Regions from separate parts of the Homo sapiens genome. Here region 2 is linked to region 1. The links come from fine-mapping of genetic effects on gene expression. A gene starts in region 1. The other region holds a variant in brackets. All regions are shown on one strand. Distances are from middle to middle. Region 1 holds the start of SLC71A1 (solute carrier family 71 member 1). Region 2 overlaps AGL (amylo-alpha-1,6-glucosidase and 4-alpha-glucanotransferase).

Region 1 (5,384 bases):
AACTACAAATCTGCTCTAATCTGCTCTAATTTTCAGAAAAATCATTAACAACTCTTACTAGTTTTGTTTATAAATATTTAAACTGGCCAAATAGGCTTACATATATGTCATTAGCAGGACAACGGGAAAGAATTTTATTAACATTGTTGAAAAGAAGAAATCAGAAGGGGGATCAAATCAGTACCATTGACCAGGTATGTGAAATACTGTTCACGACTGTCATGTACCGACCATAGAGCCTCAGACATCTCACTGAATGAATCTACCCATTGGCGGAACTTTATAAAAACTCTGAAACTCTGAGGTCAACAGCAATAGCACTGAAATATTCTATGATACGATGAATTAAAAAACACACAACAACAGAGTATCAAATGGCAATTTTTTCCCCTTTCTTAAAAAATGTTCAGTCTGGGCACGGTGGCTCACACCTGTAATCCCTGCACTTTGGGAGGCCAAGGTGGGTGAATCATGAGGTCAGGAGTTCAAGACCAGCCTGACCAATATGGTGAAACTTTGTCTCTACTGAAAATATAAAAAATTAGCCAGGCATGGTGGCACGTGCCTGTAGTCCCAGCTACTCGGGAGGCTGAGGCAGGAGAATCACTTGAACCCAGGAGGCGGTGGTTACAGTGAGCCGAGATCCTGCCACTGCACTCCTCCAGCCTGGGCAACAGAGTGAGACTCCATCTCAAACAAACAAACAAAAAAAGTTCATAATAGTAGTCTGAACTATTGTAAGTAGAGAGGTAGATAAGCAACTACCATTTTACAATCATTTCTATGACTGCAATAGTTATACTTTTTAAATTTAAAGCTGGGATGGATTAAAATACAAATAATGCAAAATATTCCCCTGATATTTATTGAAATATATCCTCTGATTACGTATAAGAATAAACAAAATTACAATAAAAATTCATCTAGGAATGTGCTAGTACAAAATAGAAGTGTTTTTATCACTTTAAAATTCACATACTAGGCCCTGTGGGATCCAAACATACAAAACAAAGCCCCTTTTCTAAAGGAGTGCCCAGTGCTCTTAGAATAGAGAATGAAATATTAAGTGTATAAAGATGAGAAATGATAATAGCCCCCATGTTCACAGCCCTCAAGAAAAGTCTTCATTTGTTCTATGTGAAACCTATTGCTGGTGCAAACATTTTATTTTGTGTCCCAAAGCAGGCTAAGAATTAATTACAACCTTAATAATAGGACAAGAAAGTTTAAAAACGATCTTTTCCAAAACTCACAGGATTTGGAAAGAAAGCATCTGCTGTAAAGCAAATCAAACAAAACCCCAAAGAAAGGTAATAAAACTGAACTTTCCAAGGAAAAGGAAGCTGTGTTTCTTAATCAGTTTCATTCTTACATTTTGTAAAAAATACTGATCTTAAATATCACTTGGTCTTACAAAATACAATCTTTCATTGCCACTATTTTGTAGATTTTATGAAGAATGTAAAATATTGTCTCTTTCTAAAGGTAGACAAAGGCAACAGTATTTTTCTCCCCACATAGTTCTTACCTACTTGGTCAAAAGAGCTATGACTCTTCATAACCGATCTAATCAAAGTAATGTTTTAATTAATCAAGTTCAATAAAAAGAACTTGAGGAATTTGTTTCTTTTTTTCAATAAATGTCAAAGCTATAACATATAATAAACGTTAAACTAAAAATATATTCCAAAGTCATTACATATGTCTCAAGTTTTCTAAACTTTGGCATATTGACTGGGCCGTGTTCTGAAATGTCATAAAATTTTGTCACGTTTTTCAACTGAATTCAGCAAATCCTCAATGGTGGCCTACTTACACATTTACTACTGTGCTAGCAGTTGATCGCGGCTCCAATAAGATATAAACAGAAATGGAATTAATGGTACAATTTCTGCACACTTCAGGTAAGTGAAACATATATATCACCTTTCCATTCTATTTCAGAACGCGGTATCAGCGGATGCAACAAAGACCACACAGTGTAGCAACGGAGAAATGTTAGCATAAAACAGTTTTGTTTTGTTTTGTTTTTCAATTAAAAATCCTACGTCCCCAGCTGGTTAACTACACACTGCATAAAGTTTACTGTGATGACAACTGTTTCTAAAAAGCAAACCTTTCTTCCCTTCAAAGTGTCCTCCTCCGATCCTTAGGCCATGACTGATTCTAATACTTTTGATCTTAAGACACACAGTGATGACTTTTCTTTGAAAACTAGCAGGTTCGAATGTAGGCCCCAGGTGTCTGCCGTCATGCTTCCGACTCCGGGAAGTGAGGGAAGCCCATCTCCGGTCAGGGTTTACTGTAAGCAGCCCAGAGCCGGAGCACCGACGCAGAGAGACGTGGAAACAGAAAGCGAACGTACTACGGGGCCGCAGCGGGATCCCCGCGCCAGACGCCACCCCGTTAGCAACATATGGGAGAGCAGGGATGGTTCCCAGCCCCTTGACAAGCGCGGCGACGGCTCCGCGGGGCCTGGCGGCGAAGGCGAGGCGAGGCTGCGGCGACGAGGGGCGCGGCGGGCGGGCCGCCGGGGGAGCCCCGCACATTCCTCCCCGCGGCGGAGGCGCACGTGGGGTTCGAGGCCGCAGGGCCTGCAGAGGCGGCCAGAGCAGAGGGCGGCAGGTGCGGGAAAGAAAGAGGACGGGCCCCGGAGGCCGCAAGCCCGAGCAGCGGAGGACGATTCCCGGAGCGGCGGCATGCGGGTCCGCGACCCCGAGGCACCGGCAGCTCGGACAGGGTGGGGGAAGGGAGGGAGGCACCGGGACGCCTAGAGACGGCAGTGTGGGGGTCTGAAGGAGAGACCGGATGGGGGCCCCGAGGGACGCTCGCCGGCGCGGAACTCAGCTCACCGTGCCTCCGTCCTTAATGATGATCTTCTTGGCCAGCATGATACTGCGGTTCGCGGCCCGTTTCTTCTTCTTCCCCTGGGTCATTTTACCATCCTCGATTCCTGGCGCTGCTGCAGCCACTCCCGGGGCGGCAGGCCCCAGCAGCTAGTGCCGTCCCACCACTACTGCCGGGCCGAGCCGCTCTGGGCGCCCGCCGCCATCTTGAGGGCCCGGCCTGCCTCCGGCGGCGCGTCACAATCGTGCGATCAGCCGACGAGCGGGCCCCGCCCCTCCCGCGTGATACCGCCCCGCCCGCTCGCCGCCAGCCCACTCTACAGTAGCCGCGCGGCCAGGGTAACCGCGGGCTCGCGTGGGTGCTGCTGGCTACCTGTACAACTTCGTGCTCCGGCGTCACCAGCTAGCTAAATCCTCGCAACGGTTCTGGGCGATAGGGGCCGTTTTTGTCCCCCTTCTTCAGCAGATGAGGGAATTTGTTTCAAAAAGTTGTTACCTGCTCACGGAAACAGACGTCCTAAGCTATTAACACAATCTCCAGCTGTGTTCTAACCAAGACAGGAACCGAAGGGAACAGTAAAAAATCATTTTCCGTAAGTAATGGGTAACTTAAGAGATAATGTAGTGTTTCAGAAACAGTCTTGTCCTTTTGGTGTTCAGGGACCCCCGCTAGAACTCAGCTGGCTCACGCTTGTTTACCTCCCTAGACCCAGGACCTTTTTTATTCCCTGCCAAAAAAAATACCTTACCTGACCGATGTCACCCTTTGTGGCCCTCTACGTTTTTACTGTATTGTTTAAAAATAAATTTGATGGGAACATTGCTAGAAAGGGCAATTTACACAAGTGGAAGTGGACTTTAAAGTATCACAATGTTAAAATTAGATATTGATAACTACCGTGTTGTATAATAGAATATCCTTTTCCTTAAGAGAAAAACACGAGGGATAGGGATACACCGCATGCTCCCTACTCTCAGATGGTTAGGGAGTAACATGTATGTGTATGTATATGTAGGTGGGGAAAAGAGAGGGACAAAGCAAAATGGCGAATGTTTAAAAGTACTGAAACTAGGTATGGTAGTTCTAAGATATGTTCACAGATTCAATGATATTCCTCCCTGGAAGAGGTGGACTCTAATTCCCCTCCCCTTGAGTGTAGACTAGGCTTAGTGACTCTTGATAGATCAAAACAGAAGTGACAGTATTGACTTCAGAGGCTAGGTCATAAAAGGCACTGCATCTTCCTTTGCGGGTCTCTTTTTCATTCATTTTGGGGCTTGGAGCCTGGGGAAGCCTGCTTCCGTGTTTTCAGGACACTCAAGCAGCCTATGGAGAGATCCAGTTGTCCAGGAACTGTTTGTAGCCTCCTACCAAATGCCACGGAGTGAGTCACTTTGGAAGTAGATCCTCCAACCTTGGTCAAGCCTTTGGCTGACTACAACTTCATGAGAGACCCAGAGGTAGGACCACCTAGCTTAGCCACTCCTGGAATCCTGACTCAGAAACAGTGTAAGATGAAAAGTACTTGGTGTAAGCCACTAAGCTTTGGGGTTATTTGTTACACAGCTATAAATAACTAATATATAGGGTAAAAGGAAAAACAGTAAATGAATGTATGAGTTCTTTGTACTGTTTTTGCAACTTTTCTGTAAGTTTGAAATTATTTCCAAATAAAATGTTAAAAAGTAAATTTGATTGAATTTCCTTTTCCTTGTATTTTCATACTGACTAAAAATGGAAAAAAAAACTAATTTCCATGGAAGGGAGAAGAAAAGCAATTTATAGCCTGATAGATACTTCTAATTATATTTTCCAATCAATAAGTATATTCATTATACTTGTTTTGAAACATATATTCTCATTTTGAAACTTTTTTTATTATTTATTTTTTGAGACAGAGTTTTGCTCTTGTTGCCCAGGCTGCAGTGCAATAGTGCCAACTTGGCTCACTGCAACTTCCAGCTCCCAGGTTCAAGTGATTCTCCTGCCTCAGCCTCCCGAGTAGCTGGGATTACAGGTCCCCACTACCATGCCTGGCTAATTTTTTTTGTATTTTTAGTAGAGATGGAATTTCACCGTGTTGGCCAGGCTTGAACTCCTTACCTGAGGTGATGTTCCCGCCCCAGCCTCCCAAAGTGCTGGGATTACAGGTGTGAGCCACCATGCGTGGCCTATTATTATTTTCTGAGGCAGGGTCTCACTCTGTCACCCAGGCTGGAGTGCAGTGGTGCCATCATGGCCTCCTGCAGCCTCTTCCGAAACGATCCTTCTGCCTCAGCGTCTCAAGTATCTGGGACTACAAATGCACACCACCATGCCTGGCTAATTTTAATTTTTCTTTTGTAAAGACAGAGTCTGGTTATGTTGACCAGGCTGGTTTCAAACCTGGCCTCAAGAGATACTCAGTTCTACCAAAGTGCTGGGATTACAGGTTTGAGCCACCGCGCCTCGCCTGCAACTTTTTAGTTGACACCCAACTTGAAGTTCTTTAGAGAAAGTAATATGATAGATTTCATAATTCAATTCCCAGGAGCTTG
Region 2 (5,384 bases), 140 kb after region 1:
TCCTTTGAAGTGAGAAATAGGAATTGGGGTGAGGCCAGGGAAGAAGCAGCTCCTATATACCAAATAATACAGACGAGCATACAAATATTTAACATCAGTAGTTTTGACTATTCATGTCTGTGACATAAAATAATCTGCTGATACACAAAAACAAATCTAGTGAGCTTCTACAGTTTCTATCAGAGTGATCTCTTCAGCTAATAAACGAACCTAGCTTGTTATCCAGCATCTGAATTTTAAATTGGCATTGCTATTTTTACTCATCTGCATACACAGGTAATGGGGGTAAATTATGAGCTAAAGGGAAACTCTCAAATTTGAGGATCCATAATGACTTTGGAAAATACCCCAGTGAATGTAAAGAATTCATAAGTCATTTTCTTTACCCATATAAATAATAAATGTGATACTCAGGATGACATTTGGGAAAATATACAATTATATTTTTAAAAATAAGGTAAAGAATGTTAAATAGAAGCAAAATGTTTAGAGTCCTTACATGTTTATTATGTTTCATTTTAAAGACTCTGAATATAACCAAAACTCTATAATATAAAAATTCTACTATTAATTATAAAAATTATAATGCTGTGAATATTTTTGGATAAACTGTGAGAAAACAAAGTTATGTGTAAAATAATTACCTGCCTGATAGCATGAACCTATATTCATTGTAACAGAAATGTCAGTTGATAACAGAGGACAAATAAAAAAATTTTGGACAAATGTTGAGTACTTCATGATATAAATAAATATCATGAGAACACAAATATATGCTAACCCTGGAGTAGCTTACAAAGCTACTATCCCCTCCCAGCCCCCCCAATCATATATAACAAACTATTAACATAAAGGCAGATCAGAAGTGGCAAAAGTATAGTATTATTGTCCATTCTTGATTAGGGAAAAAAAAACACTCAAAAATGTCTATCCATTCTTCACTGTTCATAAGATAATCTTTAAGCTCCCTGGATTGGTAGTCAAGGCTCTCCATAACCTGGCTCACCCTTTCCATAATCTCTTACTACCCTGCAGGTATCCTACACAAAAAGCCAAACCATATTGACTTTTTCACAAAACGTATTTTATAAGAGCCTAGGCTCTTACAAAAACACTATTAAGTACTATGTCCCCTAAACTGTGCTTCAATCCACTATGCAACCCTATTATTCCTTTCCTCTTTTTTTTTTTTTTTTTTTTTTTAAAGAGACTGAGTTTTGCTATGTTGCCTAGGCTGGACTCATACTCCTGGCCTCAAGTGATCCTTCTGCCTCAGCCTCCTGAGAAGCTGAGATTACAGGTGTGTGCCATACACCTGGCTTCTTTTCAACTCTAATGTCTCCCAACAACTTTCTCCATCTCTCCGAAAGTCCTACTCACCTTTTATGGCTCATTTAGGTGAAACTTTAGCTACTTTCTAACGTTCTCCCTGAGACCTACCTACTGGACCTTCTCTCTCTTTTAAGAGACTACACAACACTTCCTCTACAATCTATTGCAATGGCCATATTTATGTACACATCATCATCTCTTCTACCATGTTGCAAAGTTCTTCAGGCAAAGACCAATCACTTATAGTACCAGCAGGTGCCAAATCAATACTGACATTTGAATAATTCGTAAGATTTGGATTCTTAATTACCCTTATTTTTACATTAGAAACTAAAAGTCATTTTTCAGAAAAAAAAAAAAAAACAAAAAAACATTTTAAGAAATATCTTTACCAGTGTGCCAGCAGGCAAAGGAGCAGAATCATCTGTAGGATACATTCTGGAAACTGGGCACTTGAGAATGTCTAGACCATTTGGAACCATTTTACAGTAATCCTGGATACACTGCAGCCACCACCACACAGCATCCCGACAATTGTATCTGGCATAAATTCCTTCACCCAGTAGATTAGGAATGAGACCATGCCTCAGGGTACCCGCAAATGCTAAAATAATATTCCTAAAACAACAGAATTAAGTGGATCAGAAATGAAAACAAACACTTAAAAA[T/C]TGAAGACAAAAACCAGTCACTTTTGGTGACTATATTTTGAATGCGTTTTCTCTCTTGCCCTATTTCTTTATATTTTCATGTAGAAAGTAGTCATAGTATGATAGAGTAAGTACTGAATTAAAGTCAGGAACCTTGATTCTAGACTAGAATTTTATGCTAACAATCTGTGTGACTCCCTCTCTGATACAGTTTTTTCATTTGAGATTGGACTGGGTGATTTTTAAGGTCCCTCATAGCTCCAGATTCTACTTTTGAAGTCTATGGTATTTCAAAATCGAAGTAACTATTAAACAAGAACTTAATTATTTTAAATAGCAGAAACCAAGAGTAAAACAAACATATAGGAAAACAAACTGGCTGGGCATAGTGGCTCACACCTGTAATCTCAGCATTTTGGGAGGCCGAGGCGGGCGGAACACCTGAGGTCAGGAGTTTGAGACCAGCCTGGTCAACATGGTGAAACGCTGTCTCTACTAAAAATACAAAAATAAGCCAGGAATGGTGGTGCGTGCCTGTAGTCCCAGCTACTCAGAAGGCTTAGGCAAGAGAATTGCCTGAACCCAGGAGGCAGAGGTTGCAGTGAGCTGAGATTGTGCCAGTGTACTCCAGTCTGGGCAACAGAGCAAGACTCTATCAAAAAAAAAAAGAAGAAAGAAAAGAAAGAAGGCCGGGCGTGGTGGCTCAGGCCTGTAATCCTAGCACTTTGGGAGGCTGAGGCGGGTAGATCACGAGGTCAGGAGATCGAGACCATCCTGACTAACACGGTGAAACCCCGTCTCTACTAAAAACACAAAAAATTAGCCGGGCGTAGTGGCAGGCACCTGTAATCCCAGCTACTCAGGAGGCTGAGGCAGGAGAACGGCGTGAACCAGGGAGGCGGAGCTTGCAGTGAGCGGAGATTGCGCCACGGCACTCCAGCCTGGATGGCAGAGCGAGACTCAGTCTCAAAAAAAAGAAAGAAAAGAAAGAAAGAAGGAAAGAAAGAAAGGAAGGAAGGAAGGAGAGAGGGAGGGAGGGAGGGAGGGAAAGAGAGAGAGAGAGAAAGAGAGAGAGAAAGAGAGAGAGAGAGAGAGAAAGAAAACAAACTGGTAGAAGCTGACCTTGAAAAACATAATTCAACCAGTTTAAAAACTGGTTGAAGACAGTTAATTTTTTAAAGCATTATTTTACTATTATATACCAAATGAAAATTTTGTTTGTAAGACAGAAAGGCACTCTAGAAACAGCATGAAATTAAGAAATAAGAAGGCTGAAGTCTAAATCCTAGCTTTGCCATCTGTGTGGCCTTGGAAATGTTATTTAAAATGTCTAGGTCTTACTGCTTTTTGGCTAAACCACTCAGAAATTTTTATTAATTCTATGTCTAAGCTTAATGCCCATCTTTTCAACAGTAATGCAATGGGAAACTTTTTATTTACAAAGTATAAAAATATTAGTATAGACAGTGACACTTTCAATTAAGAAAAGGTCAGAATACTAGCTCTCTCTATATATACATATATATTTGTTTTTTTAAGAGACCCTGTTGCCCAGGCTGGTCTTGAACTTGTGGACTCAAGCAATCTGCCCGCCTCAGGCTCCCAAAGTGCTGATTACAGTTGTGAGCCACCATGCCTGGCCATAGTGCTAGCAATCTTAACCATCTGGAACAATCTTGTACATTTTAATAAAACGACTTCTGATTCATGATTACCTCTATAGAGGGAGGAAGTAGAACCATCTGTGGTAGAGGTATATGTCCACTAAAACGAATTTCCTACAATTCACAACCAATCTTACAGTTGGTTGTGGCCAGAACTGATGCATGTTAAGTGTATGGAGAATAGGTGTGTTCCCCCAGCTCTCTTTCCCTCTCTGCTTGCCTCCTGGAGAGGCCCCAGAAGCCATGGAAACTGACAGATCCTCAAGCTGGAAGAAACCTGCTTCCCTGAATCAGTATATAGAAGGCTGCTTACTGAGCATGCGTCTACGACTACAAGCAAGAAATAAATTTTATTTGTGAAAAGCCATTAAGATTTTAAGTGTTTATAATTTATGGCAGCTAGCACTACCCTAACAAATACCCTCTGGGATAATATATTATTCTCTGGGAATCACCTCTAGATCGGGGTAGGCAAACCTTTTCTATAAAGGGCCATATACTAAGTATTTTAGGCTTTGTGGGACATATATGAATTCTGTTGCACATGCTTTCTTCTTTTAAATGACCCTTTAAAAAGAAAAAGGTAAAAGCTATTCTGGTAGGGCGCAGTGGCTCACGCCTGTAATCCCAGCACTTTGGGAGGATGAGGCAGGCGGATCATAAGGTCAGGATATCGAGACCATCCTGGCTAACATGGTGAAACCCGGTCTCTACTAAAAATACAAAAAATTAGCCGGGTGTGGTGGCGGGCGCCTGTAGTCCCAGCTACTCAGGAGGCTGAGGCAGAAGAATGGCATGAACCCGGGAGGCGGAGCTTGCAGTGAGCGGAGATTGCGCCACTGCACTCCAGCCTGAGTGACAGAGCAAGACTCCGTCTCAAAAAAAAAAAAAAAGGTAAAAGCTATTCTTTGCTCATAGGCCATACAAAACAGGTGATAGGCCACAGTTTGCTAACCAATAATCTAGACAGTTCTATGTAAAATTAAGCAGCACAAATTTGTGATATTGCATAGAGGTGATAATTGGGAGCCTAAACATTAATAATGATAAAAACTAACATTTATGAACTGTTTAGCATGTGGCAGATATTACTCTAGGCATGTGGCAGATATTACTCTAGGCACCTTAACTGTATGTGTTCATTTGATCCTCCCAAGTACCCAGTAAGGTAATTTGTCAGTTGGTAGTTTGGAACCAGGATTAGAAGCTGGCAGTCTGGTGTAAAGCCGAAGTTCTTAACCACTATACTATGCTGAATGCTGATGTTCCATTTCCTTCTTCTAAATCAGTAATTCAGGAGCATTTAGGGAAGAAGCAAACAGCTTCCTAAATTTCTATAGCTCCATAATGGTAATACAAAAAGGTCTTACTATATATCGGATTAACAAAAATGCAATTCATTTCAGATGCCCACCTAAAAACTTCAGTTTTAAAAGTATCAAAAATAAAATTTTGGCATGTAAAGATGCAAACTTCAGTTATTTTCCTGATGGCATCAAAACAAGGTATCGTATAAATGCCCTTTTGCTGAAAGTTTTATCTTTTAGAGCAGTGCTTTCAAACTTCAGCCTTAGACTGTTGATAATCATCCAGAGACCTTGTGAAAACACAGATTTCTGCCCACCAACCCTACTCTCTCTATGTCCAGGTTTGGATTTGGGAGGTTTGGCATAGGGTCCAAGAATCTGCATTTCTAACAAGCTCTCAGGTGAGGGTGACACTACTGATGTGTGGAATGCAT

The links. PIP is the estimated chance that this variant, and not a neighbour inherited with it, causes the effect.
Region 2: its variant is the best candidate, but not a certain one, in a credible set for the expression of SLC71A1 in whole blood (TOPMed, PIP 0.66).

What each region holds. Positions count from the first base shown.
Region 1 is chr1:100,035,785-100,041,168 of GRCh38, reverse strand. It overlaps SLC71A1 (solute carrier family 71 member 1), which reads right to left and starts at 3,074. Exons shown (of 12, transcript NM_033055.3): 1 at 2,853-3,074. The coding sequence starts at 2,936. It overlaps LOC124904230 (a long non-coding RNA gene), which reads left to right and starts at 3,161. Exons shown (of 7, transcript XR_007066251.1): 1 at 3,161-3,439. RefSeq lists silencers at 2,448-2,637, 3,098-3,277 and enhancers at 2,758-3,037, 3,000-3,602.
Region 2 is chr1:99,897,202-99,902,585 of GRCh38, reverse strand. AGL (amylo-alpha-1,6-glucosidase and 4-alpha-glucanotransferase) reads right to left here. Exons shown (of 34, transcript NM_000642.3): 26 at 1,725-1,950. Among named protein-coding and RNA genes, the nearest start is that of AGL, 50 kb to the right of the region's middle. The variant T/C (reference allele first, on the strand shown) is at 2,001.